4 linked regions of the Homo sapiens genome follow. The protein of the gene in region 3 purifies or fractionates together with the protein of the main gene of each other region. This does not show direct contact. Each region holds a gene or a part of one and is shown on either strand. Other genes may lie near its edges. The genes, in order: RABGAP1L, POMT1, RFTN2 and USP30.

Region 1 (9,531 bases), on a different chromosome or scaffold from region 3:
CAAACAAATCTCTAGCAACATCAGTGAGTGCCTGAGGACATGGAGGGGTATGAGTCAGAGTAGGAGGGAGAGATTACAAAGGGGCATGATGGATATGTTTACTCTTGATTGTGGTGATGGTTTCACAGTTGCGTACATATGTCAAAACTTGTCAAATTGTACACTTTAAATATGAATAGCTTATTGTATGTCTGTTATATCTCATGAAGATGTTAAAAAGGACAAACAAAATCAACATCCAAGCAAGTTCAACAGATCCTTCTTCTCACTTATATGTATGCAATTTATTTGCTGAAGAAACTTGGTGGTATGTCCTATAGAGTTTCCCACATTCTGGATTTTATTGATTGCAAAAAGGAATCCTTATCTTTTTTTTTTTTGAGACAGGTATTGCTTTGTCACCCCCTTATGGCTCACTGCAGCCTTGACCTCCCAGGTTCAAGCGGTCTTCCTACCTCAACCTCCCAAGTAGCTGGGACCACAGGTGCGTGCCATCACCCCTGGCTAATTTTTAAATTTTTTGTAGAGATGGGGTCTAGCTATGTTTCCCAGGCTGGTCTCAAACTCCTGGGCTCAAGCAATCCTCCTGCCTCGGTCTCCCAAAACGCTGGGATTACAGGCCTGAGCCACCATGCCTGGTCAAGAATTCTTATCTTTTAGAGCTTTATATGATGAAGTATTTATGGGTGATATCCATGTGAGGGGTGGGGAAGGAGATTGGCCACATATTGATAATTGTTCAAGCTGAATGACTGACTCATGAAGGCTCATTATACTCTTCTCTCTACTTTTTATGTGCTTAAACATTTTTTATAAGAAAAAGTTGAAACAAGTCCTGGGGCCTATCTTAGAGGTACTGAATTTCTTGGGGGTTGAGCATAGAGATATGCATTTTTATAAACTCCCAAGGTGATTTTGTTATACACTACAGAGGATCACTGCCCCACATAAAAGAAAAGGACTCCTATGGTGAGATGAATTTCAGACACCTACCATAATGTATGGGAAAAACCATTTTTGGTAGGTGTCCTTTACATTAAGTATCAAATTCTAAAAGTAGTAGAGGCTGGGCATGGTGGCTCATGCCTGTAATCTCAGCACTTTGGGAGGCCACGGTGGGCAGATCACTTGAGGTCAGGAGTTTGAGACCAGCCTGGCCAACACGGTGAAACCCCGTCTGTACTAAAAATACAAAAATTAGCCAGGTGTGGTGGTGGGCACCTATAATCCCAGCTACTTGGGAGGCTGAGGCAGGAGAGTCACTTGAACCCGGGAGGTGGAGGTTGCAGTGAGCCAAGATCGCACCACTGCACTCCAGCCTGGGTGACAGAGTGAGACCCTGTCTCAAAAAATAAAAAATATAAAAAATAAAAGAAATAAAAGTAGTAGGCTAGCTATTCTTCCTCAAGAGACATTTAGGGCCAGGCGCAGTGGCTCATGCCTTTAATCCCTCCCAGCACTTTGGGAGGCTGAGGCGGGTGGATCACCTGAGGTCAGGAGTTCGAGACCAGACTGGCCAATGTGGCGAAACGCTGTCTCTACTAAAAAAATACAAAAATTAGCTGGGCATGGTGGTGCGTGCCTGTAATCCCAGCTACTCCGGAGGCTAAGGCAGGGGAATTGCTTGAACCCGGGAGGCGGAGGTTGCAGTCAGCCGAGATTGCGCCACTGCACTCCAGCCTGGGCAGCAAGAGTGAAACTCTGTCTCAAAAAAATAAAATAAAACAGGCATTTAGATCTCTGCCTGCCTCTTCTACTGCTGAGGAAATTTTCTGCTCCCTATATACATATTTTATTGTGTTCTTAGTCTTAAATGGGCGATTGCAACACAGGTTTGGTTTATCATATAAGCTCATTATGACTTGTCCAGATTACTCTGAATTTCAGCCCTACATAAAACCGTGAAATAAAAAAGGTTTTCTTCTGTATCTCCAGTTTTACCTGTTACATCTTTCGCTCTCTCGGTGATTTCTCCCTTCCTCCAGTAGCCAGTGCCTCTTTTCCAAATCTTCCTGTTAGTAAAAAAAAAAAAGACTAAAAAATCATGTGATAAACTCATTTATATAAGATTAGTGATTCGAGTCATGAAGTGCTCTTCTTGGGCAAAGTTGATTTAAATAGGGCACAGGATTTAAGTCAAAGTGAAAAAAAAAAAAAGTGTAACGATGGGCTTTCAGGCATCAGGTAGCCCAGTCAGGGAAGGATTTTTTGGTGTGGTCAAATTCCTTTCAAGACCCTGTAAAATCTTGCCAGACAGCTTGTTACCTTTCTATCATTGGAAACGTATCCTTGGAAGAGTCATATAATGCAACTAAAGTTATTTGTTCCATAGTATGCATGGAAAGATTTAGCTTTATCTGTAAGAAATACAAAGCCAAACTCGAACCTTCTTAAAAAGCTGTCAAAATCAGGCCGGGCACGGTGGTTCACGCCTGTAATCCTAGCACTTTGGGAGGCCGAGGCGGGTGGATCACCTGAGGTCAGGAGTTTGAGACCAGCTCGGCCAATATGGTGAAACCCCATCTCTACTAAAAATACAAAAATTAGCTGGGCGTGGTGGTGGGCACCTGTAATCCCAGCTTCTCAGGAGGCTGAGACAGGACAATCGCTTGAACCCGGGAGGCAGGGGTTGTAGTGAACCGAGATTGCGCCACTGCACTCCAGTCTGGGCAACAGAGTGAGACTGTTTAAAAAAAAAAAAAAAAGCTGTGAAAATTTATTGTCTCAGAGGAAGGGGTAGGCTTCAAGCTGGGTTTGAGTGCTTCCATCATGTGTCAGCTTCATCCTCAGGCTGGCTTCCTCATGGTAGCAAAGTGGCTGCAGTAACTATTGGACTCACATCTACCCATCACACTAGCCAGAGTAAGAAAAAGAGCACTTTTCATTTCCCAACAAACACAAGATATGGCCTTCCATGTGACTGGCACCAATTTAGACTCATGTCAGTGCCTATCAGTGAATACTGACAGGTCAAGTGAGAATGGGATTAGGCTGATTATCACAATCACTGTCCACACCTGGAGCGGGAGATGGGCCTAATCAGATCCTTGGCTGTCTTGCAATTGCAGAGGGGTGGAAATATATTCTGGGGAATCAATCAATATAATGCTCACTATAAAATCAATATGATATTCTGTACCATTAGATACCAGTTTAAACTCTTACATTATTGTTCAATGTTTAACTTGTTTCTAATTTTTTTTTTCTTTTTTGTGGAGACAGGGTATTGTTATGTTGCCCAGGCTAATCTTGAACTTCTGGGCTCAAGCAATTCTGCCTTGGCCTCTCAAAGTGCTGGGATTACAGGCATGAACCACTGCACCTGGTCTGTTTCCAATTTTTGATATTACATTTTAAACTAGGAGTTGCAGACATAAATGAGAGAAACAACACTGTAAGATACAATAGAGAATGTAGAGACTTTGGCAAAAGAGAGAATGCATGTCCTGCAGCTGATCGTTATCATGTAATAATGTAAGCTCACTGTTACCAAATCTTCCACTTTTTAAAGAGAAGCCCAAAATGCATGTATAATCTTCTGGTTTTTAACTTTGGATATGTGTTTTTTTAAGCACCATGTATGCCAAACAAAACATGTTTGTGGGTTTGATTTGTACCTGGGGCACCAGTTTGTCATGTTATGAATCATGCTGGAGTATTTTATAACACCATCTCTCAAAGTGAGAGTTTCAGTCCTTTCATGGACCAGGGCTGCTAGGATACGCTTAATGCAAATGAAGCCACAGTGGAAAGAGAAGTGAGCAGCACATACCACATGAAGAATGCTTTGTTATTAATTTTTTATTCCTTTTAGTTTCTCGACTAAAAGCCTGAAGATCTGTTAATAATTTTTTGGCATGTGCTTAGAATTGTTTTTCTGGTGGTAAGGATGAGTTTGCATCAGATCACCTTAATTGTCTTTTATCTAGGTTCTCTCATGACTTGTCTCTTATCTATGTTGTACTGTGAGGAAAAGTTCAGTTTTAAAGAATGACCCCTGTTGATGAGAGGTGTTACATGTGGCCATGGGACAGGATTTTTCTTTTCCTTATAGCAAGTTGGCACATGAAGATAGCATGCTCCACTTAAATAGAAGAATTAACTCGCAGTGGCCAGTGGTGTCCACTATTGCTTTCAAAGACATATGGAACTGAATTTGGGGAACACTAAACTTGTTTTGGACTTGCCATTTTTTTTTTAAATTCTTTTTTAGCTAAGTTACCTATTGAATGCCCATAATTACCACATCCATTGTCCTTTTTTGTCAAAAAGCTTCACTCCAGTTAGAAGATACCTGAAGGCAGAAACTGCGGCTTTGTCAACTGTTGATTTCCTCATGGCGCGCAGTGTAAATTTACTAGTACTTTATTTAGTAGAGGCTTAGTACTTACTGGTTGGCAGATTTATTAATAGTTCCTGTACATCTCAGGAAATCAACAGATGATTTATGTTATTCTAACCCTAACTTTATTAAATATAATAAAAACTTTCAGCATTTATTGTCAGGCCCAGGGCTAGGTAGGCTCCTGAGATACAGAAGTTAATAAGGGAAGCAGCCCAGAAGGTAGGGGAAACAAAAAAATAGTTACAACACTCTTGATATGTCTCAGCATCTATAGACATTAACATCAGGAAAAGCGGGGGTGTGGGGGGAAGGAATTTGTCAGGGAGGGCCCTTTGGACAAATGTCACGTTTCTCAGAGTAGCTTTTAAATATGGGTGGGAAAATGAGGGCAGGGGAATTGAAGTGGGATAGAAGGGAGATATTTAAACTAAAGTCATTCTATGGCTGCAATCACTGGACACTATATTCACTTATCCATGCAATCACATTCATTGAGTGCTTCCTATGAGTTAGGCAGGGTGCACAGTGTAAGATACAAATGAATGATACAGGTTCACAGCGGTTGTCTAGTGGGATAAAATGCTGCACAGGGCAACCTGGATAAGCCTGACATGTTAGGTGCCACAAAACTACAGAACAAAGTGCTAAGGAGATTCGGAAAATTTACAGGTCATTTCTGGTTGCAGGATCTAGAAGAAGGATGTCCACAATTCAAGGATCAGTACAATCTTCGTAGCGAAAAAGCGTTGGTTTATTCTACCTCTACCTAGTTTGTACCTCAACATCTTTTACCCCAAAGGATAAAAAGGTGCAAATGAGGGCACATTTTCTTCATATAATACGTAATGGTGCTTACTTATTGCTTTCCTGTTCATTCCCCGCAGGTGATTTCCCTCTTCAGTCTCCCCCGAGTCTCACAGAAGGAACTAACAAGGGAGCGCTTCACAAGCACACAGACACCTTCAAACAGGCGCAGAAGAGTACTTGGTGAAAAAGTATTCTTTCAGGTGACTTTCCTTAAGATTACTGAGCATTAAGAATGAAAATATGTAAACCAGGTTTACGAGCAAGAAAATAATCTCTCCACATTCAGAGTTAATCTTCCGAACTCAGCAACTGCCAGTAGAACGCACCCCGGTCAGGGCGGGCTCGCGGGCGCGGTCCCACCCCCAGGCCCCTCCGCCGCGGAGGTTCTCCAGCGCCGCCCGTACTCCCGCCTTTCGCGCGTCCCTGCTCTAACAGCTCTGGTTCTGTCAGGACCTCACTCCTCCGCTCCCGGCGCAACCGCGGCCACGCAGCGACGTGCACGCGCGTGTGCGCCGCCGCCGCCCGGCAGAGTGGGCGCCTCCGACATCAGGAGCGCGCACGCCGCGCAGAGGGGCCTGGACGAGCGCGCTTCCGACCCGCCGCCACCGCCTCCTCCCCTCCTTCTCGGCCCGCCCCCTCCCTCGCCTCTTCCTGCCAGGCGGCCCTTCTCCCCTCCCCTCTCAGTTCCCTCCGCCCTCCTCGGGCTCCAGCGGTGGCGGAGCGAACGGGACCGGCCCGGCTTCAGAGCGCGAGGTGGAGGGTGGAACGCGGGCGCCTGAAGGAGTTGTTGTCTCGGCAGCGCCCGCGGAGACGTGAAGAGGTGAGGCGAGGACGGCCTCCTAGGGACACGAGGGCGGCCCGGCGGCCCGGATCCGCGGGCCGAGGCTGCCTGGGTGTGTTGGCGTCGGGCTGAGCCTGGGGAGGGTCGAGATGGGGCCCCAGCCGAGGACTGGGATGCGGGAGGACCGCGGTAAGGAGGGTAGGGGGCGGGTTCAGGACTGTCGGCCGCCTCCCGGACACCGCAGTTCTCCCAGGTGGCCGCTCCTCGCGGATAGGGCGGGCGGGGTCGGCGCCCTTACCTGGGGGTGGGGTAGTGGCTTTGGCGGCCGCCTCCTCCAGCTGTGCCCTCCTGACATTGCTGCCTCGGCGGCTGCCGCCCGCTGCTACGCTGTGGCTGCTGCTGGATTCGCAGTCCCAGCCGCCCTGCGTCCGGTGGGCGAGTGGTTAGGGTATTTTCTTACCCACACGCAGGCTTCTGTACTCGACCATTTCTCTCCCTCGCCCTTCCTCTTCCTCCGCCGAGCACTTTGCTCGGCTCCTGCTGTTGATGCTTGTGGTTTTGCAGTTTGGGATGGGATGCGTTCCGGGCAGATCCCTACCTGTAGGGAATGCCCCGCTTCAAAGTTGACCTCCTGAGCCATGACAAACACCTCCCCCCAACCCCCACCCACCTTGTGAGTGCTCAGTGTCCTGATAACTGAGTCAAAGTTTCTGAGACTGGGCTAGTACTTTGCACTGGTCGCCAACGGTACAGGGCTGGGCAGTGCGTCAGCATGTGGAAAGGGGCCACCGGCTAGCGGGAGGTGGCCGGGTGCATGGGAGCTGAACTGACGGGTTTCAGATACTAGGCAGTGTGTCCAGGTCCTTGGATCTCTCAGATAGGGTTATATTAGAATATGTACCAAAACTTGGGTGGTCACTTGCAAAATTGGTTTCATGCAAGTAAACTGAAATGCCAGCCTTATTACACTAATGGTAAGGAGAACTTTTGCTTGCCTGACAGATTTCAGCGCAGTTTGGAAAATGATTTTAAGGCCTTTATTTTTGGCACTGGAGGGGTTTAGGGATTTTTAATACATTTAAATTTCCTCGTGCATAGTGGGAGGTAAGTAGTTGCTTGTTAAAATTCTGAAAACACAGTTTCATGAAAACCTTCTGACTTTTCTTACAGTAGTGTTTATATTTGGCATCTTCCGTAGAATATCCATTAGTTATGATGTCAGAAGATACGGATGTGAAGTTTGCTTTTTGTGATCACATTGGAAGTGGATTTTGTTCATGGAAAATACTGGTTCACAAGCTCCTAGTACTAGAAAACTGGCCTGTGATTCATTTTCTCAGTAGAGCGTCCCTTATGAAATTGACAATGAGATTTCTAAGGAGAAAGACTAGTTGAACTTTATGTATACATTATCATCAAATTGTATTAAATGTACACCTGCCTGAGGGGTTAGCTCTAGACTTTGAGTTAGACTGGTGTCTATACTAAATCAGTTCAATAAATGCGCTGATATTATGTATTATTCATTTGGAGAGAAGTAGATAAAGCAGGGCAGAGTTTATATTTTAACATATTATGTAGCCTACATTTGCTCTGATGTGTATTATTATTATTATTATTATTATTATTATTATTATTTTTGAGACGAAGTTTCGCTCTTGATGCCCAGGCTGGAGTGCAACAGCGCGATCTCGGCTCACCACAACCTCCGCCTCCCGGGTTCAAGCGATTCTCCTGCCTCAGCTTTTTGTGTAGCTGGGACTACAGGCATGCGCCGCCACGCCTGGCTAATTTTGTATTTTTAGTACAGACTGGGTTTCTCCATGTTGGTCAGGCTGGTGGAACTGCTGACCTCAGGTGATCTGCCCGCCTCAGCCTCCCAAAGTGCTGGGATTACAGGCGTTAGCCACAGCGCCCGGCCTCTGATGTGTACTAGTAAGTCATATGGGGAGAAGTAGATGAAATAGGGTAGAGCTTATATGTGAACATATTATATAACCTACATTGTCCTCTAGAAAGCTGGAAACAAGTTAGTAAGTCTCAGTACTATTGGGGCATATGGTGAATATACAAACCAACCTAAAAAAGTGTGACTGTAAATAGATGAAGTTTGTTTGTTTCTTTTAAAGAGACAAGGTCTCGCTCTGGCGCCCAGGCTGGAGTGCAGTGGCTCAGTCCTAGCTCACTGCAGCCACGAAGTTCTGGTCTCAAGAGATCCTCCCACCTCAGCCTCCTGAGTAGCTGGGACCACAGGCACATGCCACCAAACCTGGCTAATTTTTTGTTTTATTTTTGTAGAGTCAAGGGTCTCACCATGTTGCTCAGGCTAGTCTCCAACTCCTGGCCTCAGGCAGTCCTTGCGCCTCAGCCTCTCGAAGTGCTGGGATTACAGGCCTGAGCCAACGGTGCTTGTCCCATTTTTTTTTTTTTTCACCTGAGTTATTTGATGGGAATTTCTATATATTACAGTTGCGATGTTCTGAGAATTTTTGTTTCTTTGATAATTGTTTCATGATTTAGATGTTTTCTTTTTACGCTGGTAGTTATGATTTTTTTTTCCTTTGAATGAAAGAATTTTATTAGGCATGTGAAACAGGAGTTTTCATGTGATCAGCTCTCCAGTTCTAAATTTGTGACTTTTAAAAAACTTGAATTTTTTTCTTTGCCTTAACCCAAACTTGAATTTGCTCAGCCATTGTATATTTATTTGAACTCTCAGATGATACAGCATTGAAGCAGAAAGTCCTTTTATCCATGCTTTTGGAGTAATCAAAAGAAGGAATTCTGTTGTGCCAAGTAAAAATATGTGTGGGAGATAGCTAGGCTTCAAGAGATTGACTTTGAAGAGAGTAGTGGCTAAGTAGCAAAAATTTCCTATATTGAAGGTGTAGAAGTGGGCCTGCATTCCAACCTACCATTGTCTTCAAGTGGGGTATGGATCATTATGACTGGTTAGAGGGGGTTTGGAGAATGAAGTTGTTGCTGTAAGCCTATGGGATTCCCAGGCACAGAGCTTGCTTATGTCTTAATTTTAATGAGTTCTATATTTTTATAACTCTTGACTTATATAAATGGGTCAGCCGTTGAGTCTGAGGATGACCAGCAGCCCAAGGCTATTCCAGGTGCTGGTATTTCTTTTTTTTTTTTTTTCTCTTTCTGTTTTTTTTTTTTTTTTTTTTTTTTTTAATTATACTTTAAGTTTTAGGGTACATGTGCACATTGTGCAGGTTAGTTACATATGTATACATGTGCCATGCTGGGAATTGAACAATGAGATCACATGGACACAGGAAGGGGAATATCACACTCTGGGGACTGTGGTGGGGAGGGGGGAGGGGGGAGGGATAGCATTGGGAGATATACCTAATGCTAGATGATGAGTTAGTGGGTGCAGCGCACCAGGTGCTGGTATTTCAAAGATGGCTCAGGGGTTTCTTGTGGAGATGATCTGATGAGCATTTTGCCATTACAAACAGTGGAGGCGGAGAAAGTACGGACTTGAGCCTGAGTTATGGTAAAACATACTCATTTTTAAAGGAGAGTTTTAATGCTGATATTATAGAGAAAGACATTGTTTGACTCCTAGACTTTCAGAACG
Region 2 (6,925 bases), on a different chromosome or scaffold from region 3:
ATCCCCAAATATTAAGATGCATACAGCATCACCCACCCACAGAGACATGGGGAATTCACCAAGCACAGCTGGCACTCAGCATGCCTGCCCATACAGATTCTGTCTCTCCCTTGTGTTTGATTTAGGTGGATACTATGAGCCAACCTGCTGAAAGACCTCCTGGGACGCAAGGCTAATCCTGCTTACCCACCTACCCAACCCCCCCACCCCCGCCCCCACCAGCAGCACATGTCTGTGGCTAGCGATGACCCAATGAAACGGCTGCAAGTATGAAAGGAAAACGTGGGAATCAACTGCAATAACATGTTTTCAATCAGGGAGAGGTGAAGATAACCAAGAAACTGCTGTCAATTTCTCAGGCATGATAATGCAACTGTGGTTATGTGATTTTTGTTTTTAAGAATCCTCAGCCAGGCACGGTGGCTCACGCCTGTAATCCCAGCACTTTGGGAGGCCAAGGTAGGTGGATCACAAGGTCAGGAGTTCAAGATCAGCTTGGCCAACATGGTGAAACCCCTTCTCTACTAAAAATACAAAAATGAGCCAGGCGTGGTGGCAGGTGCCTGTAATCCCAGGTACTCGGGAGGCTGAAGTAGGAGAATCACGATCGCACCATTGCACTACAGCCTGGGCGACAGAGTAAAACTATGTCTCCAAAAAAAAAAAAAAAATCCTCATCTTTTACAGATATACCGCTGAATTATCTATGAATACTAGGATTTGCTGCAAAGTAAAAACCACTGCAGGGAGGGGCCTGGCTGTGAACTGATAAGGTGAAGCTGGGTAATGAAAATACTGGTGTGTGTGGGGGGGTCATTCATTATACTTGTCTCCCTGCTTTTGTATATGTTTGACGTTTTCCATAATAAAAAGTTAAACAAAAAAGAACATGCAGCAGGGCGGAGTGGCTCACGCCTGTAATCCTAACACTTTGGGAGACCCAGGTGGGTGGATCATGAGGTCAGGAGTTCAATACCAGCCTGGCCAAGATGGTGAAATCCCGTCTCTACTAAAAATACAAAAATTAGCTGGGTGTGGTGGCGGGCACCTGTAATCTCAGCTACTCGGGAGGCTGAGGCAGAGAATTGCTTGAACCCAGGAGGCAGAGGTTGCAGTGAGCCGAGATGGCACCACTGCACTCCAACCTGGGCGACACAGCAAGACTCCGTCTCAAAAACACACACACACACACACACACACACACACACACACATACACACATTAATCAGTTAATAAAGAGCCCTTCAATAATAACAGCAATCACTTCCCATTATGACAAAAACACATTCTAAAAAGTGCTCTCAACAGTGAAGACTTACTTCCAAATCCATTAATCCTCTGCCGTCCAGACTTTAAAACTGTTACTTAAGGCTGGCAACCAGATTTTCCTCTACTGCACCCCTTTAATGGGCCAAATTTCACCTGTTACAGACTCAGAAGGCAAGACCTAAAAGGTGTACTCTGCTGGGGCTGTCCTGGGGACAGACTGGTCTCTCCTCTCACTGCCAAAAACACCTATCACCAAGAAGCCAGGATTTCACTCTCCCATTTATGCTATTCAGTAAGGGCGCCTCCTGTCACAAAGTACAATTCTAGATTCACCCTGGGAATGGAGTCATTTAGCTTACACCACAGCCCGCGGGTAGGTGAGTCGCCACAGCCGGCTCAGTAACCCCATCCCAGTCAGGGCCACAAGGCTCAAGTTGATGTCAGCCGTCACCACTACAGGGCGCTTCAAAAATCCCCACATCTTGTAGAAAAGCGGGCTCAGGCAGACGCCCTAGAAAAGAAGGGAGGAGCCGTGGTCCATGAGGGCTCACGAGAGGCTACAGAAGGGATCCCCAGCCACCCGGCTCCCGGACACACGAGGAGAACCACAGCACAGCCGGGCTGCTGAGAAAGACCGAAGTTCCTGGAGCCTTGGTTCAGGTAGACATGTGGGGTGAGGGGCACTAGCAGTGAACTCGGGTGGGAATTCAGGGGATCTCAGGACTGGACATTCACTCCTTTCAACAACTCATTCCACAAAACCTGCCGAGCACGTCTTGGGCGCGAGAACACTGCTAAGGAACGCCAGGGTTTCTCCCCTCCCTCCCCGACGACCAGAAGCCCACAGTGCGGCCACAGCTACCTGACCCTGGGCAGCTCCTGGGTGCCATCTCAGCTGCTTACAGCCCAGGGACCCCAACCTGGCCGAGCCTCGGGGCCTCCTCATCTCTCCTCAAGGATGCATCTGCCCCCAGTGCCTCCCTGCCTTCTATCCCAGCGGCACATCATCCCCGGGTGCTCCCTTTCTCGCCTGGAGGGTGCATTTGCACCCTGCGCCCCCACGTTCTCCTCCAGGCTTCATCTTCCCTTGAGCTCCGCTTCTCTTGAGGCTGCATCAGGCCTGGGACACCCTGTCTCACACCAAAGCCGCATCTGGCCGTTGGCGCCCCGCTGGTCTCCTCAGGCCCCATCTACCCTGGACGCGCCCTTCCCTCCCTGAGCTGCATCTGCCTTGAGCGCCTTCGTCCCAAAAGGTCCCATCTGTCCTGGGAGTGCCTCCTCTCCCCTTGCAGACCGCATCTCCCTGGCCGGCCCTTCTTCCCCACAGGCCGCACCTGTCCCGTCCACCAACTCCCGAGGCTGCGTCGGCCCCAGCTCCGTCCTCACCCTGAGACTGCACCCGCAGCACGCCCTTCCTCCCTAGGGCTGCACGCGCCACGGAGTTCTTACTTCGGGGCTCGGCCGCCCGAACGCCGCATCTGCCCGGGCCCGAACCCCGCCCCCAGCTCCGGAAAGACGGGGACGCCCCCGGCCCCAGCCCGTCCGCAAGCCAGGGACCCGCGTCCGGCACTGACGGACTCCCCCAAGTCCGGGCTGGGCTCTCGTCCCCGGTGTCCCCAAATGTACCCGCGTTTCTCCGAGTCCACACAGAGCCGCGCCCGGCTCCCGGCAACGCCTCGGAACCGTCCGACTGGGCCGACGGTTGGGGGTGAGGCCGCTCGGCACTCCGCACCACCCACCGCCCTGCTCAACGTTCGATTCACCGAGCCTGCGGGGCCAGACGGGCAGCAGCGCGCGTGCGCACTGGGAGAGGGTGACGCGCGTGCGCAGCGGGCGAGGGCGCCGGTCCCGGAGGAGAGGCAGGTGTGAAACGCGGCGACCTCCCCTCTCTCGGGTGCTACTGTTTTGTGTGCCAGGATTTCTGTGTACTCTAAGCAGACGTGCAGATTTTAAAAAGCGCAGTGGGCTCCCACCCATCTTCTGCTCCTTGCTTTTTCACTCCATCTGGCGTGAAGATCTTAATTCTGCGTCTGCACAACGGCGTTCTGCCGGGCGCGCCAGTTTGCTCCTAGTTTTTTTCTTTTCTTTTCTTTTCTTTTTTTTTGAGACGGAGTTTCGCTCTTGTTGCCCAGGCTGGAGTGCAATGGCGCGATCTCGGCTCACCGCAACCTCCGCTTCCCGGGTTCAAGCGATTCTCCTGCCTCAGCCTCCCGAGTAGCTGAGATTGAAGGCGCACGCCACCACGCCCGGTTAATTTTTGTATTTGTAGTAGAGACAGGGTTTCACCATGTTGGCCAGGCTGGTCTCGAACTCCTGACCTGAAGTGATCCGCCCACCTCGGCCTCCCAAAGTGCTGGGATTACAGGCGTGAGCCACTGCGTCCGACCTTAATTTTTTTTTTAAGACACGGGGTCTCGCTCTGTCGCCCAGGCTGGAGTACAGTGGCAGGACCACGGCTTGCTGCAGCCTCGACCTCTCTGCCCGAAGCGATCCTCCCTCCTCGGCCTCCAGAGCAGCTGAGACCACAGGCACGTGCCCCCACGCCCGCGGGCGCTCCTAGTTTCCTTGCCGAAAAACATCGATGCCACGATCCTGCTTGCACATACATCTAGCGGTGAAGTGGCTGAGGGTAAGGGCATTTAAAACGGACCTAGGGCCGGGGGCGGTGGCTCACGCCTGTAACCCCAGCACTTTGGGTGGCCGAGGTGGGAGGATCCGTGAGCCCGCTTGAGTCCAGGAGAGCCTGGGCAACACAGCGAGACCCCGTCTCTACAAAAAAATACAAAAATTAGCGGGGCCCCTTGGCGTCTGCCTGCAGTCCCAGCTACAAGGGAGGCTGAGGCAGGAGATCACTTGGGGCAGAGAGGTCGAGGCTGCAGTGAGCCTTGGTCTCACCACTGCACTCCAGCCTGGACTACAAAGTGAGACCGTCTCAAAACAAAAAACAAAACCAAAAAAACCTGGACATCAGTGGGGGCTGCATGACCATCAGAGGCTCCAGTGGGGGCATCTCCCCTAAACTCCGTGGCAGAAGACTGGAGGCTTCTTCCTCCATTCCCAGGGCTCCTCCTCATCCATCAGCCTCTCCAGCCCCCTCTGCTGAGGGTCAAGAGCCTTCCCAAAGGCCTGCTTTGGAGCAGACATGGTACTTTTGGTTGGGTCAATGCACCCCTTCCCATGTTTTCCCTGAACAGTCGGCACCCAGAGCAGGGTAACTGACAGCAACGCAACCAGGCTGATGGATCACTCTTCTCAGCCTCGCTCCTTCTTGATCTCCTGGTCTATTTGTATGTTAATCTATACAGACCAAAAGGGCACACTGCAGGTTTAATAACCTTCATTATGGTTCTTGGCTGCCTGCAAGACTTTTTTTCCATGTTGGGCAACATAGCATTAGATGACACCAGTTAGAATTTCGTGGTTACTTCTTTATGGCTTACCCTTGAGGGGTTATGTGACTCACCCAAGATCCCACAGAGAGGCAAGGAGCTGGGGCTCACCTGGGTTTGTGGCCAGAGCCTGCAGGCAACTGTATTTACAGTGGGCAGGGAGGGTTCCCTGGGCCCCAGGAGGGAGTGGGGCTGGGCTGTTAAGCTTTGGTTCATGCCATGCTAACAGTGGTGGTGCCTCAGGACTTACAGCCTCCATCTTGCAAGCCCCCAACCTTAGGACTAGCCTCTTTCAGGGCTGGTCTCCGTTTGAGATTTTGTGAGCCACCTGTCCCTAGGGAGCAGTAAATCAGGGCAGTGAGTGTGGCTAGTTAAAGCTGAGATGCCCATGGCCAGGTCCCCAACTCTCTTCCATAGTCAAAAGGCTTAGAAGGAAGTTGAGGGACTGGGGTTCCTCATGGAAACAGCGTTTTATTTCTTGGGGGTAATTTATAAGTTTTCTTAGCTGGTTCTAGGCACTAAGCTAAAAGCTACTGGTGACTTTGAATCCACACTACGCCATGAGGTCGATACCATTACAATCTGTGTTTTATGATTAAGGAGACTGACTCAGGTGGTGAAACGTCTTTCCCCAGGTCAGTGAGGCAATGGCAAAACCGAGAACTGCTGCCTCAGCCCATTCTTACCTTTTACCCTTCGCTACCCCAGGCCTGGCTTGCTCCCTCCCCACCCCAAAGCACAGCATAATCCTCCTCCACTTCCTGCAAAAGCACCGCTAGAAGTGACAACACAACACGCCACATCAAATGCTTACCTCCTCTGACCAGCTCGTTTCTCACGGCAAGTGACGGGGCCACAGGCAGGCACTGTGCACAACCAGATGCCATCCGTGGGAAGAGGGTGGAGTGCTTGATGCTGCCGCATTTGGAAGATGCTTCTTAGCCACGGGTTTCAATCCCTTCTCTACCCACACAGCTTCTGTTAAGGCATTTCAGCCGTGCCACTCCTAATTTCCGTGTGAACTCTGTAAAATTAGAATTCTTTGATCTGTAGGTCTCTCTGGTCAAATGACCAAGAAACGAGGGATGTACAACCTGAGAAAGCACGTTCAGCTTTATCTTTTTAAACTTTTTTTATTTAAATAAGGAGAATTCTTTCATATGGAAAGAGCTAGTACAATCACATATTTGAAAGGAGAAACAATAGGTACTGAACCGGAGGGAAAGGGCGAGGGTGAGTGTGCCAGCACCGGCCTGGTGAATCCACGATTCGATTTCCCATCCAAGGTAAGTTTCCCAAAATACCGTATAAACAAGCTGCACATTACACCTCTAGCCATCGTCTGCCCTTTCAAATATCTGGTCTACATGGAAAGACAAAGAGGAAAGGCCAAAACATAAACAAAAGGAAACAAAAACAAAACACAACCCTCTCAGGAACCAAACAAAACCCCCAAATCCTTTTTTACTACACAAGGCATGAGGTCAAAAGCTTGAGTACAGTGTCCCCTTTAGATCACGGGAGAAAGGCGTCCACACAGAGCCTTAGCAGGAATTTCCACTCTGAGGCTTCAGAACATGCTGAAGATGGGGCTCTGAGGGTGCCACTACCATCCTGGAGGCCACCAAGTGGGGTGGAAACAGTGAAGAGCAGGTCTCACATGCCCGAAGACCACCAGCCAACTACACATTGGTGGCCCTGGTGGAGCATGGCTGGGCGACAGCGTCCATCCCCAACACTGAGCCACTCCTGTCCTGGATGACTTCCTGCTTAGGTCCGTCACATTTCAGAAGAGAGCTGGCTTTCTGGAAGCCTACGTTTCCCATTCATCACAGAACACGACAGAGTGCACACATCCTGGTATCCTTGGTCTTCAAAGGCCATTTCCAGCAGACCCTCTAACCCAGGCTTGTTCTGCAGGAAGTGAAAAGGGACAAATGAAGATTTGAGGGGCAGCCTGCAGCTACTTGGCACAGGGGAACCAAATGGCAAGGGAGAAGGCTCCACCAGAGCTGCCATGCTGCCGTAGCAGGCCAGACCACAGCATGGCTGTGCACCTGTGTGTGCTCAGCTTCCAGAAGCTGTCACTGACCATCGCGAAGGCAGATCCAGAAGATAGGAGGGTGACAGCACGGCTGGAGAGCACTGATGTCAACGTTTAACAAGGTTCCCCAGTGTCCCTAGAAGTGGCTGGAAGGACCACAGCTTTGGAACTGAACTGATTTTCTTGAATGTGAAATAAAGTCATCTTTTGTTTTCCCCCTTAA
Region 3 (8,461 bases):
GAACTCCTGGCCTCAAGTGATCCACCCGCCTTGGCCTCCCAAAGTGCTGAGATTACAGGCGTGAGCCACTGTGCCTGGCCGGAAATTTAAAATTTTGATGAAGTCCAATTCCGGATATTTTTTTGGAGGTGGGTGGGTGGTGGCACAGGGTCTCACTGTGTTGCCCAGGCTGGAGTGCAGTGGTGCAGTCTTGGCTCCCTGCAACTTCCACCTCCTGGGCTCAAGTGATTCTCCCACCTCAGCCTCCTGAGTAGCTGGGACCATAGGCACCAGCCACCATGCCCAGCTAATTTTTGTATTTTTTGTAGAACAAAAGTCTGGAACTCCTGGCCTCAAGTGATCCTTCCTCCTCAGCCTTCCAAAGTGCTGAGATTACAGGTGTGAGTGACTGTGCCTGGCCTCCAGATATCTTTTGAAATAAACTCCTTTATTGGGCTGGGTTCGGTGGTTCATGCCTGTAATCCCAGCACTTTGGGAGGCCAAGGCGGGAGGGATTGCTTGAGCCCAGGAGTTCAAGACCAGCCTGGGCAACATGGTGAAACCCTGTCTCTATAAAAAATACAAAAATTAGCTGGGTGTGGTAGCATATGCCTGTAGTCCCAGCTACTTGGGAGGCTGAGGATCGCTTGAGCCCAGGATGATTGATACTGCAATGAGCTATGATAACACCACTGCACTCCAGCCTAGGTGACAGAGTGAGACTGTCTCAAAAAAACAAAAAATAACAAAAACCAAAAACCCACAAAAAACAAAAACAACAAAAAACTCCTTTATTGCTAAATAAGCCAAGTTAAGTTCTGTTGCTTACAGGTAATAATGTGGCTTACATAAACCTTCAAAAACTCACCTTGGCTGGGCGTGGTGACCCACACCTGTAATCCCAGCACTTTGGGAGGTCGAGGTGGGTGGATCACTTGAGGCCAGGAGTTCAAGACCAGCCTGGCCAACATGGTGAAACCCTACTTGACTAAAAATAGAAAAATTAGCTGGGTGTGGTGGTGTGCACCTGTAGTCCCAGCTACTCGGGAGGCTGAGGTGGGAGAATTTTTCTTGAACCCAGGAGGCAGAGGCTGCAGTGAGCCGAGATCATGCCACTGCACTCCAGCCTGGGCAACAGGGTGTGACTCTGTCTCAAACAAACAAACAAACAAAAACAAACAAACAAACAACAAACTCACCTTGATACTTATACATTTATCTTACACATAAATGATTCATTTATTCCATTGATTTAATTACTTGGTATTTTTACATACAAAAATTTGAATGCTCAAAACATGTTTAGAACCCATTTCTTTTGCAGTCGTCTTCACCAAAACTTTATGAACCTCATCAAAACTGAGGCTCATCATTTTACAGTTTTGCCTAATTTTCTGCCTCAAACACCATCTCAGAACTTAAATATCTGACAGACCTGGTTCTGCAAACTTTGCACTATTACACAAATAAAATTCATTCTCAAGGGATGATAGATTACCAGCAAATGTTATTTAAATTGATATGTTACAAGTTCTGATGAGTAACATTTAGCTAGTTTTTCTATGTATCCACTAGTACATTTTTATATAATGTGTTCTTAGTTATATACTATCCCCATTGTTAGCAATTTCACTTCATTTGATTCTCCATCTGAATTTACACTTTCCATACAGTACTACTCTGGGGCTCTGAAGAGTTAAGAGAAAGAAATCCTCTTTAGCCATATGGGGAGGGAAAGGGCCACAGTCCTTCCAGCCAAGAAGGAATGGTGGTGAGGAATCAATAACAGGCAAGGGCGGGAAAACGGGACAGCTCCTCTGGCACTCCAGAATGAAAGAAATGAAAATGCATCTGTTACATTTATATTCAAATATATAAACACCTGCTCCTGATAACACAAATGATTTGGAGATAGTTGTGATTTGAATAGACTGTAGCTCTGTCTCCTGCTTCTCCTCCTCCTGAAAGCCCTAGAATCTCTCAAAGAGGGTGACCTTTCCTTTTCTCTTTTACTGAAATGAATTGTAATGACACTGATAGAGCTGATTTCCCTGGTGATTAGGTAGGTGTTAAATGTGTCCATAAAAGATAACAAGGTGGTATACAATCCAAAGGGGATGGAATTAACACTTGGTATTGAAAACGAAGATGAAAATGCCATAGATACTACACCAAGGGGAATGGCAGATCTTCACCCAACATCTGGGATCTTGATACCTTTCATTATAACTTACAGGTTTTAAAAATTCACATGCCAGAGCCCCTAAGGAAATCATAGTGTTATAAAAAGAACTGAATATACAACTGGCAGATAATAAAATTAGACATATTTAACTCCTTAGGCATAGAGAGCCCAAGTTTTTTTCTTTTTTTAAAATAATAGGCTCATAGCTATTTACACACATTTAAAATACTCTAGAACCACTTGATCATAAATTATTCGCTATCATACAAATTCATCACATAACTTAAGGGTAATTGTTGGAGCAAATGCTTCTAAAACAAGTTTTGAGGATATGACAGACTAGTAAGTTTATTTTAATAAAAGTTATTTTAATAAGAAATAACTCAGATTAAAAATAAACGGGAGGGGAGAAAAAAATAAACTGAGAAAGTATGCTTACACAAATTTTTTAAAAAAGCGATTGCTTGGCTGGGTGCAGTGGCTCACACCTGTAATCCCAGCACATTGGGAGGCCAAGGTGGGTGGATTGCTTGAGGCCAGGAGTTCGAGACCAGCCTGGCCAACATGGTGAAACCCCATCTCTACTAAAATTACAAAACTTAGCCAGGCATGGTGGTGCAGGCCTGTAATCCCTGCTACTCAGGAGGCTGAGGCAGGAGAGTCACTTGAACCTGGGAGGCGGAGGTTGCAGTAAGCCGAGATTGCAGCCTGGGTGACAGAGTGAGGCTCTGTCTCAAAAAAAAAAAAAAAAAAAAAAAGTTATTGCTATATTTCTGAGTTTTTTCTTAGTCAAATATAAATTCCTATCTCTGTTTTTAATTTACTACTTCCAATCCCCTATGTATGTGGGCTGAATGATAAAGAAGTCTCTACCTCTTGTAGACCCTGGAATTGGGAAAAACAGATCTTTCTGATTTGTTCTTTGTGCTTCCTAACTTCATTACGTTTTATGGACTCCTGAAGCAGTGATTGTTTCTACCAAAAATCCACTAACTCTTGATTATGGAACTCAAGTCCATCTAAAAGTCAAAACAAAAACCATTTCTGCAAATATTGTTGACAGCTATTGCTATAGAATAAGACTGAGAAGAATATTCTTAAATTCCTTTATACTGTACTTCTGGATGATAAAAGTGGAATAATTCCTGTTAATTTTATCAGCAATTAATGGAGATTGACTTAGTTTAGATACACTATATAATTGATAACATGTAATACATATCTGTTATATGTATAAAACATATTATATGAAGGCCAGGCATGGTGGCTCACGCCTGTAATCCCAGCATTTTGGGAGGACAAGGCAGGCAGATCATGAGGTCAAGAGATCGAGACCATCCTGGCCAACATGGTGAAACCCCATCTCTACTAAAAATACAAAAATTAGCTGGGCGTGGTGGCGCACACTGGCTGTAGTTCCAGCTAATCTGGAGGCTGAGGCAGGAGAATCGCTTGAAGCCAGGAGGTGGAGGTTGCAGTGAGCTGCGACTGTGCCACTGCATTCCAGCCTGGGTGACAGAGTGAGACTCCGTCTCAAAAAAAGCCACAAAAAACCCCCAAACCAAACATATTATATGAATATTTGTGTTCAATAAAACAATAACACAATAAAAATGATGTTTTATTATTAAAATGATCTTACAATGTCAACATCAATGTTAATAAAAATATATAATAGGCTGAATTCATCAATGATAGAATAAGTTGTAATTCACTTGGAGGTTCCATCTTTCAAAGTAAGCCTTTCATAGATAAATGAAAATCCTTTATTTTGTAGAATTTTAAAGATTGTTAAAGGCTGGGTCAAGGCAAAGCCACCTCTATTAGAAGGGGAAAGAAAAGCAAGATGAAACAAAATATGTTATCATACATATCGCGTGTGCTATGAGCATCTTTCTACTCCTGCCAGATTGAAAATTCTAGGTTTCAACATTCTTCAGGATTTAACAAGTCAAAATAAAAGCAGAATTCAAATCTAGACAGATGTAAAAGACTTCAGTTTCAAATTGAAGTTGATATTTTTCCTCTTCATAGTATTTGGACTTTAAAATAAAAAAAAATTAAATCTTACTCTCTACTAAGGTATTTATGTATTGAGATTATGGGTTCTTTTCATATTGAATTTTAAGAGATGCTGCTTTGCTGTCTGCATTTTTAGGCTTTTAGGAGCAACAACATTTATGTACAATGAATCAGTACAGGGTTGGTGACATGACCCTTTAAAAGCAAAGATACATAAAAAAGATTTTTTTCAAAAAATATTTTAACACATAGGGGCTTGCTTTGTATATACATGCTATAGTTAAAGACAAAATGTGGATTAATTATTATATTTGGGAAATAGATATTTATTTGCACTAATTAGCTGTGTGTGTGTATGAGAGAGAGAGAAAAAAAAAGAGAGAGAGAGGTTATTTTTCAGCTTAAATAAGACTGTAACTTCCTGAGAACTCTCTCTAATTGGGTAAAATACTGATTGAGATATTCAGTCTCCTTACCAGGAATTGTAAGAAAGTCTACTTTGTACATTCATGAGAAGCTGAAATAGATTATTGTGTAATAACCGAATGGAACATCTGTTTAACCAGATGTTTTAGTTGAGAGAAGTGTAAACATGATTCTAAATGTATAAATATGTTGGTTATTCTTCCTTGTCTGGGAGGTTGTGCCAAAGTTTACATAGATTAGAGGAAAGGCTGGGTCTGGAAAAATTCAAAAATATTACATAAATGCAGAGAAAGTAATACAATAAGGTCAGTTGGCAATGATTTTAACAATTATTTACAGGGCCTTCCTTTGCTTCACCTCATGGCTCACATACAAGTGACCTGAGTCACTCCATCTTCCTGATCAAACTGTCCGTCGTCTAATTCCCGGAGGACGTTGTCACTGCTGCTGAACCCAGAGAAGCTGTTGTGCTGTGCCAGCCTTCCCTCCTTTGTCCAGCATTCCCGGGAGGGAGAAAGGCGGCACTCCTCAGGCAGGTGTCTGCTCTCTGCAGGTTGTGACGAGGTTGTGTCTAATCCGATGCTTCTACTAGTGGCTTTATTCTTGTCTTCACCTTTTATGTGGCGGCTGGCTTTCTTCTGAAACACAAGACATTGGTGACCAGGAGAGTTAAAAAGATGGGTGTTTCCTGTCCCTCTGGTCTAGCACATGCTGCCTTTCTGCCTCCAGGAATGTCCTTTTCCCCAGCTCTTCAAAATCCTGCTCATCTTCAACGACCAGCTCAGAGCTACCTCCACATTCCCCTCTCCACCCAAATACAAATGAACTCCCTTCTCCCTGTTTTGTAACTCTTTGTAGGTTCCTGGCACATCATTCTTGTTGATGGGTATGTTATGTACACATCTCGGCCCTCAGTGACATCTCTAAGGAAGGAAATTTGTTGAAATCATACTTTGGGAGAACAAAGCAAGGTATAAATACTAATATGTTTTTCTTCTTAGTGTTAGTTCAGATCTATACAGCAGAAAAGGTGCTTTGATGGCCACCTTACACCCATGTCATGTAGACACAGGCTGCACAGAAGAGTCACAGTGATATGGTTTGGCTGTGTCCCCACCCAAATCTCATCTTGAATTGTAACTCCCATATTTCCCATGTGTTGTGGGAGGGGCCCAGTGGGAGGTAGTCAAATCATGGGGGTGGGTCTTATCCCATGAATAAGTATCATGAGATCTGATGGTTTTATAAAGGGGAGTTCCCTTGCACATGCTCTCTCTTGCCTGCCACCATGTGAGACATGACTTTGCTCCTCATTTGCCTTCTGCCATGACTGTGAGGCCTCCCTACGTGGAACTGTGAGTCAATTAAACCTCTTTCCTTTGTAAACTACACAGTCTCGGGTATGTCTTTATTAGCAGGATGAGAACAGACTAATACAGTAAATTGGTACTAGTAGAGTGGCGGGGGTGGGGGGTGCTATAAAAATACCCAAAAATGTAGAAGCGACTTTGGAACTGGGTAGCATGCAGAGGTTGGAACAGTTTGAAGGGCTCAGAAGAGGACAGGAAAATGTGGGAAACTTTGGAACTTCCTAGAGACTTATTGAATGGCTTTGATCGAAATGCTTATAGTGATATGGACAGTGAAGTCCAGGTTGAGATGATTTCAGATGGAGATGAGGAACTTGTTGGGAACTGGAGCAAAGGTGTCTCTTGCTATGTTTTAGCAAAGAGACTGGTGGCATTTTGCCCTTGCCCTCAAGATATGTGGAACTTTGAACTTGAGAGAGATGATTTAGGGCATCTGGCAGAAAAAATTTCTAAGCAGCAAAGCATTAAATAGGTGATTTGGGTACTGTTAAAAACATTCAGTTTTAGGTATTCACAAAGATATGGTTTGGAATTGGAACTTATGTTTACATTTGCAGACTGATGATACCATAGAAAAGAAAAACCAATTTTCTGAGAAGAAATTTAAGCTGGCTGCAGAAATTTGCATAAGTAACAAGGAGCCAAATGTTAATTGCCAAGGCAATGGAGAAAATGTCTCCAGGGCATTTCATGGCAGCCCCTCCCATCACAAGCCTGGAGGCCTAGGAGGAAAAAATGTTTTTGTGGGCCGGACCTAGGGCCTTGCTGCTTTGTGCAATTTTGGGACTTGCTGCCCTGCATCCCAGCCATGGCTATATGGGGCCAACGTAGAGCTCAGGCTATTTCTTCAGAGGGTGCAAGCCCCAAGCCTTGGTGGCTCACATGTTGTTTTGGGCCTGTGGGTACACAGAAGTCAGGAAATGGGGTTTGGGAACCTCTGCCTAGATTTCAGAGGATGTAAGGAAACACCTGGATGTCCAGGTAGAGGTGTGCTGCAGGGATGGAGCCCTAATGGAGAACCTTGCTAGGGCAGTGTGGAAGGGAATTGTGGGGTGGAAACTCCCACATGGAGTCCCTACTGGGACACTGCCTAGTGGAGCTGTGAGAAGAGGGCCACCGTCTTGCAGACCCCAGAATGGTAGATCCACTGACAGCTTGCACTGTGCACCTGGAAAAGCTGCAGACACTCAATGCCAGCCTATGAAAGCAGCCAGGAGGGGGGCTGTACCCTGCAAAGCCACAGGGGCAAAGCTACCCAAGGCCATGGGAACCCATCTCTTGCATCAGTGTGACCTGGATGTTAGGGAGTCAAAAGAGATAATTTTAGAGCTTTAAGATTTGATTGCCCCACTTGATTTTGGACTTGTATGGGGCCTGTAACCCCATCATTTTGGCCAGTTTCTCCCACTTGGAATAGATGTATTTACCCAATGCCTGTACCCCCATTGTATCTAGGAAGTAACTAACCTGCTTTTGATTTTACAGGGTCATAGGCAGAAGGGACTTGCCTTGTCTCAGATGAGACTTTGGACTGTGGACTTTTGAGTTAATGCTGAAATTAGTTAAGACTTTTGGCCGGGTGCAGTGGCTTACACCTGTAATCCCAGCACTTTGGGAGGCTGAGACAGGAGGAACACTTGAGGTCAGGAGTTTGAGACCAGCCTGACCAACATGGTGAAACCTCATCTCTACTAAAAATACAAAAATTATCAGAGTGTGGTGGCACACGCCTGTAATCCCAGCTACTTGGGAGGCTGAAGCAGGAGGATCACTTGAATCTGGGAGGTGGAGGTTGCAGTGAGCCAAGATCACACCAATGCACTCTAGCCTGGGCAACAAGAGAAAGACTCCATCTCAAAAACAAACAAACAAACAAACAAACAAACAAAAAACAACTTTGGGGAACTGTTAGGTAGGCATGATTGGTTTTGAAATGTGAGGACATGAGATTTGGGAGGAGCTGGGGTGGAATGATATAGTTTGGCTGTGTCCTCACCCAAATCTCATCTTGAATTGTAGCTCCCATAATTCCCAAGTGTTGTGGGAGTGACCCAGTGGGAGGTAATTGAATCATGGGGGTGGGTCTTTCCCATGCTGTTCTTGTAATAGTGAATAAGTCTCATTAGATCTGATGGTTTTATAAAGGGGTGTTCCCCTGCATGTGCTGTCTTGCCTGCCGCCATGTAAGACATGACTTTGCTCCTCATTCACCTTCCGCCATGGTTGTGAGGCCTCCCTAACCATGTGGAACTGTGAGTCAATTAAACATCTTTCCTTTAAAAATTACCCAGTCTTGGGTATGTCTTTATTAGCAACGTGAGAACAGACTAGTTTACATGGATAATTCAGACTGAGTTTATTTTGAGCGAGTGTCTAGAATGTCTTCAAGGGTGAAGTGGACCCTTTCCTTGTCCTGCTGCAAACTGCTTCTGCCTTACACAGTATAAATGCTCAACAATTCAATCCAGCTCATTCAGAC
Region 4 (6,545 bases), on a different chromosome or scaffold from region 3:
CCAGCCACAGACATCTGGAGGGAGAGCAGAGGGACTCTGGAGTGTCTGTGAAGCAAAAATGCTGCAGGATGGCCGGAAAGCAGTGAATGAGGGAAAGAAGGGGATGGCATGAGCTCAGCAGTGGGCAGGGGCCGGGCTATGCAGAGTATGGCCTTTGAGTGCAGGGCAAAATCATGTGATAAAGGTTTACATAGACTGGCCAGGGGAACTACAGTAAGACGTGATTTTGGCTTTGGGTGTCTTCAGTTTTAAAGCACATGAACTGGCCGGACGTGGTGACTCATGCCTGTAATCCCAACACTTTGGGAGGCCAAGGAGAGTGAATTGCTTGAGCCCGAGTTTGAGACCAGCCTGGGTAACATGGTGAAACTGTTTCTGCAAAAGAAAAGAAATTAGCTAGGTGGGGTGGTGCATACCTATAGTCCCAGCTACTTGGGAGGCTGAAGTGGGAGAATCACTTGAGCCCAGGAGGCCGAGGCTGCAGTGAGCTATGATTGTGCCACTGCACTTCAGCCTGGGTGACAGAGCGAGACCCTCTCAAAAATAATAATAAATAAGTCACATGAACAAATACGTCAACAGACCTCTTCAGCGTTGGCTTATCTTAGAGCCCACTGTGGACCTCAAGCCCTCGCAGAAACAACGGCAGGTACAGCCATGCAGAGTGCTGTTTCACACTGTGAGGAAAACGAGGGCTGGCGGTGCTGGTGAGTTTCAGGAGAGGGTTGTTTTTATGCACTGTGTTTGTTTTCTCATTGCAGGTATAAAGATGGCTGTGACCACATCGGGGAGCACCGAGATGATGAAAGAGAACTGGCCCCTGGGAGCCCCATTGCCTCTGTCTCCTTCGGTGCCTGCAGAGACTTTGTCTTCCGGCATAAGGATTCCCGTGGGAAAAGCCCCTCCAGGAGGGTGGCGGTGGTCAGGCTGCCGCTGGCCCACGGGAGCTTACTAATGATGAACCACCCGACCAACACGCACTGGTACCACAGTCTTCCCGTGAGAAAGAAGGTTCTGGCTCCACGGGTGAATCTGACTTTTCGTAAAATTTTGCTTACTAAAAAATAAAAACATTTTTAACAGTTTTTCTCTTTTCTCTTTCCCTCTCGACTCTAAGAGGGAGCTGGCATTTCCCTTACCAACAGGGAACACAGAAAGGTTTAAAGCGTAGGGCTTGTTATGTAACAATGCAGAATTCAGAAAGATGATGTTTGTAACAGATCAGTGTATTACAAAAGAACACCAGGTGATTTTTTTCTAACAAAATGATTATTTTATTGCTATAATACACAGCAGATACAAAAGTACCTTTAGCAAATACATAAATCAGCAGTTATTATGGCAAAACTACTAGTTTAACTTAGGTTTTTCCCAAAAGAAGCTACTTACTTTGAAAATAAAACTAGAAATCAGATTATTGGGCTGCTACTTAATGCATAATAATTTACAAAATGAAGAAGTCAGGTTAAAAGGCTTTGCACAGCTATTGTTCACATTTACAGCCTTGGCTCAAACCCTGGTCTCTGACCAAAGAAAGATCTGCTTATAACCATATATTCCAAGGCTCAGCCCCTTTTCTCTATCTTTCTTTGATGGTAGATTTCAGAGTAAGCAGTGGCAGAACAGCAATTACTTAAAGCTACAGCTTTGCAGTACACTTTAAGGTCACATGATTGGGCATTTGTTCCACCAGACTTGGGTAAAACAAGTGTGTTCATTTCAACATCAAAGTCAAGGTCTGCATCGGGTGAGTGCAGGACGGACCGTACAGTTCAAGCTGCCCCTTGCACCCTGACGCCCAGAGCCTGGAGAGCCTGCACAGAATATTCTGTTGAGAGTGAGTTACTGAGTCCTCAGGGTGCAGCCTGGGCCCAGCAGAAGAGTGATCACCTGGGCTTCCTGCACTGTGAGCTGCTGCCAAGGCACTGTTTGGTGTGTCTGCCAGCTCACCCCCAGCAGAGGAAGTGCGGTCTTAGCCTTACCTCAGATGACCTTTTGGAAAGGTCTGATTCCAAATCTTACCTCTGATGAGTCGGTTTGAATTTGGTATCCATTTTTCTAAATTAAAAATATAGCTTAAAACATAGGTACTACTGTGTCATCAAAATTCCTTTGGCCCTGGGCTGCATTCAGAGACTTACCTGAAAAGGGAAGAAAGTGCTCAATATATACTTTTTGTATTAGGCTATTGGAAATGAATAAATTCAGAATATGGACCTAGAGCAACATGACAATACTAGATGCCAGCTGTAGTTATATGTTTTTTAAAAAGTCAAAAGCTGCTTTCTCCTTTTCGTGAAAAGGGCTGAACTTTGGTGGTCATCAAATCTAACCCTTCACTTCACAAATGAGGAAACTGAGGTTCAGAGAGACTGCAGCCCCATAGTCAGCCCTTCCTTCCTAAGCCAGGTGTCAACTCAGGGCAGGGATTATTTTTTTATACAGCCCCAAGCTCCCACCTGTAAACCTTAAGAGCTCTGCATGGGCAATAAATAAACAGATGAAAGTAACCGTCCACAGTGGATCCTTGTGTAAGAAAAAGTTTTCCACAGAGCAGAGGAATCAGGTGTTGCAAAGATCCAGCTCAGTTCTGGCTATTCACAGAGTTTTATAATACAGTGTAATTACATCTCAGTCCAATATACAAAAGATAAAAGCAACAAGTAAGCTCTTCACTTATAACTGACAAAGTAGTGAAAGAGTTTCCCCAGGGGGCAGATTTGGCAGATGAGCCTTTACTCCATAGAAAGAATTGAAAGATTAGAAAAGGCATAGAAAAAGGAAGGTGTTCTTTAGGCATCATTTACCTGTTCTCTTGCTATCCTTTGAGTAGCCTGGAAGGAATATTTCACAATGGACGTGCTACAAAAGCAATCGAAAGTGAAAGGCACTTTTTCTTCTAAATTGTTGCCTTTAATAATTTCATTAATTCTTGTCAACAATTTTTATGGGCCTGCTTATTAAAAATAAAAGATCTAAGTGGAAACGTTGATTAGACAAAGGTACCTCCCCTCTGAGAACACCTAACATTACAATATGAAAACGGTGGCTTCAAGAATCTGAGTTCTTTTAATTACCTGTATCAGATGAGTAAAAAGACACTCCGGACATAATGAATGCTTTCTTAACACAACAGAACCACCTACACACATGAACAGGACTGTTCAGGGAGCCTGGTTTGGTGTGAACTGGGGCTGGCTCCCAGGTGGAGCCTGCTCTTAGAACACACCAGAAGGCTGGAAGGCTCTAGTGGGGCCGCTTGCACACGCAACAGTACAGTTTTACTTTTTTCCTGGACAGTGCAGACAGTGCCATCAGCTCTAGCCTTGCAGGAGGGCACAGTCATTCTTCAGACTTGCACTCCTGGCTCTGGTGCTGCATCCTGGAAAGGACGCGCTCGTAGAACAGCAGGTAGGCGCTGGAGGACAGGACCTCCTGCAGGCTGGCCTTGCGGACAGTGTCATCGGAGACCCACAGCCACTGATTGCTAGTTGAGAGAGGGTTCCTGGCAGAAGGTGGGGACCGTCGGTAAGTGACAAAGTGTCCAGAGTGCATGTCTCCATGGTGGACGACAACTGCCATCAGCCGGAAGAGGTATGTGGAGGAGCTGAATGATACGAACACATGTCAGGGGTTTACAATTTTAACAAAAAGACTTTATAGGCAAAAACAAAAGAATGCTAATGTTAAATAGGGGATGAATACAATGGTAAGTCCATACCACCAAATGCTACACAACTATTAAAATACAGATCTGTATTTACTGGCATGGCAAGATGTACATTCTATGAGTATATGTATATTGTGTATATGTGGATGTTTGTATCAATGAGTGTATGTGTTTATGTACACTATATGTATGTGTGATGTACAACTTTATAGAGTGCATGACCCTAAGTGTTTAATTGGCTATCTCTAGATGGTATCCCAAGAAATTTTAAATTTTCTTTATATTTTATACATACACACATATATACACACATACATATGCATATGTAAATTTTATGTACTTTAAAAATTTTTAATTTAAAAGTTATTTCCATTTTGGACAAAAATAAATAGGAATGTGTAATCGTGAAACTTCACCTTAAAATGAAAAATAAACATCTATATTTTCCTTAATTCATTTCTGTGAAAAGCTAATTTTAGAAGCTAAGAGCAGTGGTAGCTCTAAGATGGGGCTTGTAAAGGGTGGCTCACCTGTAGTCGGGAACAACTGGGAGAGGGAAGGGCATCGGCGCTGACAGCGTTGGCAATAAAGATGGGGAGCAGGCGCCATTCATAAAAATCTGTGTTTTGGGGGCCCCTGGCTGATTCAGAACTGCAAGAGAAAAAGGCCCGAGTCAATGAAAATTAGCAGTGGCTCTGTAAACAAAACCTGGTTTTGATTACCTTGAAAGTTAACTCCCCATAATGCTACAAAGAAAAAAATCTATTTCATTTGGTATTATATAGATTCATAAAATAATCTGCCCTTTATCCTTAATCTCAAATAGGGATAATCTGTCTTAATCCCAAATAGGAAAAGTGTATCTAGCTCCAGCTTTACGGCTAGCCTGGGATCTTTGAGCTTCCTAGCCCTGTTTGCTAATGCCATGTATCAAAGTTAATCAGTAGCTAATTTACTGGCTTTTGACCTAAACCAAGGTTTCTCAACAGCAGCACCATGATGGTTTTGGCTGGATCATTCTTTGTTGCGGGGGCTGTCCTGTGCATTAGAGGATGTTGAACAGCATCCCTGGCCTCTACCCACTAGACACCAGTAGCACCCCTCCCCCAGTAGTGATAACCAAAAATGTTACCAGACACTGCCCAATGTCCCTTGGGAGGCAAAACTCCTCCAAGTTGAGAACCACTGATCTAAGCATTCTATTTGCTTTAATTCTGTCAGCTTCTAAGGAATACCAACGTGTAATAGCATTCATACATGTTTATGGGTAGACAACATAATTAAGGCCATATTTACATGTCTTTTCCTTTCAAGTGTCATTTTTGGGGGCTGTTATGTACCAAGTAGTTTCCTGATGACATTTTTTGTGTGTGTTTTAGACAGGATCTTGCTCTGTTGCCCAGGCTGGAGCACAGTGGTGTGATCACAGCTCACTGCAGCCTCAAACATCTGGGTTCAGGCAATCCTCCCACCTCAATCTCCCAAAGTGCTGGGATTGCAGGTGTGAGCCACCACGAGTGGCCCTACTGCTGGCATCTTTAACCACAGCCAGCATGCTCTCAACATTAGTAAACCTGCACCCCAGCCCAGGAGATGGGGAAGCTGGGGTGCAGAGGTCTTTGATTTAAAACCAGGGCCAAGGACTGAACCAGAGTCTGTCCCCTACCTCATCTCTTTTCGATGTTAATCTAGTGACTTGATGAGAAAGAGGAAAACACAATCTCCCTGACATGATGAGGTGTCGGGCCATGCAACTGTGGTCATAAAAAGAACAAAAGGAGTAAGGGACCCTAAATAGGAAAGTATGGGGTGTGAGACAATCCTGACCTAACTGGGGGCAGCAGACAGGTGGTGAGTTCAGGCTGTGAGCCCTTCAAGTGAGTGGGTTTTCCTCATGTCTAACTCTAAAGAACTCAGTGTGTCACATGAGACACCTTTAGAAAATGGCCCAACATGGCATTCTAGGGCCAGTTCTCCTGTGTGGTGTTTGCCCTTGGACCAATCATTCAACCCCGTGGAGCCTCCATGTTCTTATCAGTAAGACCGGCGATAATAGCTACCCGGCTTAAATGAGACCTCAGCTGAGGGCAGTAATGGAATCAGATACATAATTCAGTACAGAAGGCATTTCAACCCCCAGAAGAGGCTCAGTGATCTTTAGCCAGGACATGTCCTCCCTACATTTCCTCTACTGACAGGAAATGACATGACCGAAAAAAGAAATTCACTGGAATGATGTGAGCCAATGATTATATCATTTAGCGGAAAAATTAGAAGGCAAAGCTGCAATTTTAAGCGTTTCTCTCTGTACTTTTTCATCTGTAATATGGTTTCAAAAACGATACATCTCACTGCTACATAATTTTAACCTCTTCTAAGAAATCTTCCCTCTTCCACCCCCAATCCTGCTGTTCTCAAGAGTTTAAGCACCATTGTACAAGCCTTGTGCTCCTGTCATAAGGGACCCAGAAGGTGGTGATGCCAAACTGCTTTTCTCTGTGCTGAAAATTCCTGCTGCATCGGCTCCTCGCGCGCACACACCTGGTGTGGGGGCTCCCGGCCCATCCTGCAGCTCCAGTGTAGGCCCTGGGTTCTTGTTCAGTTTAGGGTTGTGTTGACTAGGTTTATGTCCAAGGAGGTGGTACTTGTAAATGTCCATCATCAGGAACTCATTGAACTGCACGTGCTCATGCCGCTTCAGAGGCGTGCCGTGGCTGGACCAGCTCAGCCGCTGTAGGTGGATGCAGAGACACTGAGGGAGCTGCGGGTGGAAGAGAAATCGGGAGAACCGAGTTGTTTCAGGGGCAGGATACACGGAGTCCTCAAAACAAAGCCAACAGGGTGTGTAGTGTGGGCTCACCTTCCCTAGTTTTAA

Evidence for each region.
Region 1: the proteins of RFTN2 (region 3) and RABGAP1L purify together in Homo sapiens (affinity purification with mass spectrometry; 2 studies listed by BioGRID and IntAct, with this or other methods). This does not show direct contact.
Region 2: the proteins of RFTN2 (region 3) and POMT1 purify together in Homo sapiens (affinity purification with mass spectrometry; 2 studies listed by BioGRID and IntAct, with this or other methods). This does not show direct contact.
Region 4: the proteins of RFTN2 (region 3) and USP30 purify together in Homo sapiens (affinity purification with mass spectrometry; 2 studies listed by BioGRID and IntAct, with this or other methods). This does not show direct contact.

The regions. Positions count from the first base shown.
Region 1 is NC_000001.11:174,153,686-174,163,216, forward strand, and holds the start of RABGAP1L (rab GTPase-activating protein 1-like), read left to right. Parts: upstream 1-5,834; 5' UTR 5,835-5,972; intron 5,973-9,531. UniProt on the Homo sapiens protein: GTP-hydrolysis activating protein (GAP) for small GTPase RAB22A, converting active RAB22A-GTP to the inactive form RAB22A-GDP. Plays a role in endocytosis and intracellular protein transport.
Region 2 is NC_000009.12:131,499,044-131,505,968, reverse strand, and holds the start of POMT1 (protein O-mannosyl-transferase 1), read right to left. Parts: upstream 3,052-6,925; 5' UTR 2,896-3,051; exon of another isoform or gene 2,656-2,895; intron 1,781-2,655; 5' UTR 1,751-1,780; coding exon 1,629-1,750; exon of another isoform or gene 1,320-1,628; intron 1-1,319. UniProt on the Homo sapiens protein: Transfers mannosyl residues to the hydroxyl group of serine or threonine residues. Coexpression of both POMT1 and POMT2 is necessary for enzyme activity, expression of either POMT1 or POMT2 alone is insufficient.
Region 3 is NC_000002.12:197,567,031-197,575,491, forward strand, and holds the end of RFTN2 (raftlin-2), read right to left. Parts: intron 6,002-8,461; exon of another isoform or gene 5,251-6,001; coding exon 4,978-5,250; 3' UTR 1,194-4,977; downstream 1-1,193. UniProt on the Homo sapiens protein: Upon bacterial lipopolysaccharide stimulation, mediates clathrin-dependent internalization of TLR4 in dendritic cells, resulting in activation of TICAM1-mediated signaling and subsequent IFNB1 production.
Region 4 is NC_000012.12:109,082,729-109,089,273, reverse strand, and holds the end of USP30 (ubiquitin carboxyl-terminal hydrolase 30), read right to left. Parts: coding exon 6,531-6,545; intron 6,432-6,530; coding exon 6,212-6,431; coding exon of another isoform or gene 6,101-6,211; intron 4,322-6,100; coding exon 4,201-4,321; intron 3,608-4,200; coding exon 3,343-3,607; 3' UTR 1,251-3,342; downstream 1-1,250. Other genes in the region: DNA oxidative demethylase ALKBH2, read left to right, coding at 762-1,068. UniProt on the Homo sapiens protein: Deubiquitinating enzyme tethered to the mitochondrial outer membrane that acts as a key inhibitor of mitophagy by counteracting the action of parkin (PRKN): hydrolyzes ubiquitin attached by parkin on target proteins, such as RHOT1/MIRO1 and TOMM20, thereby blocking parkin's ability to drive mitophagy.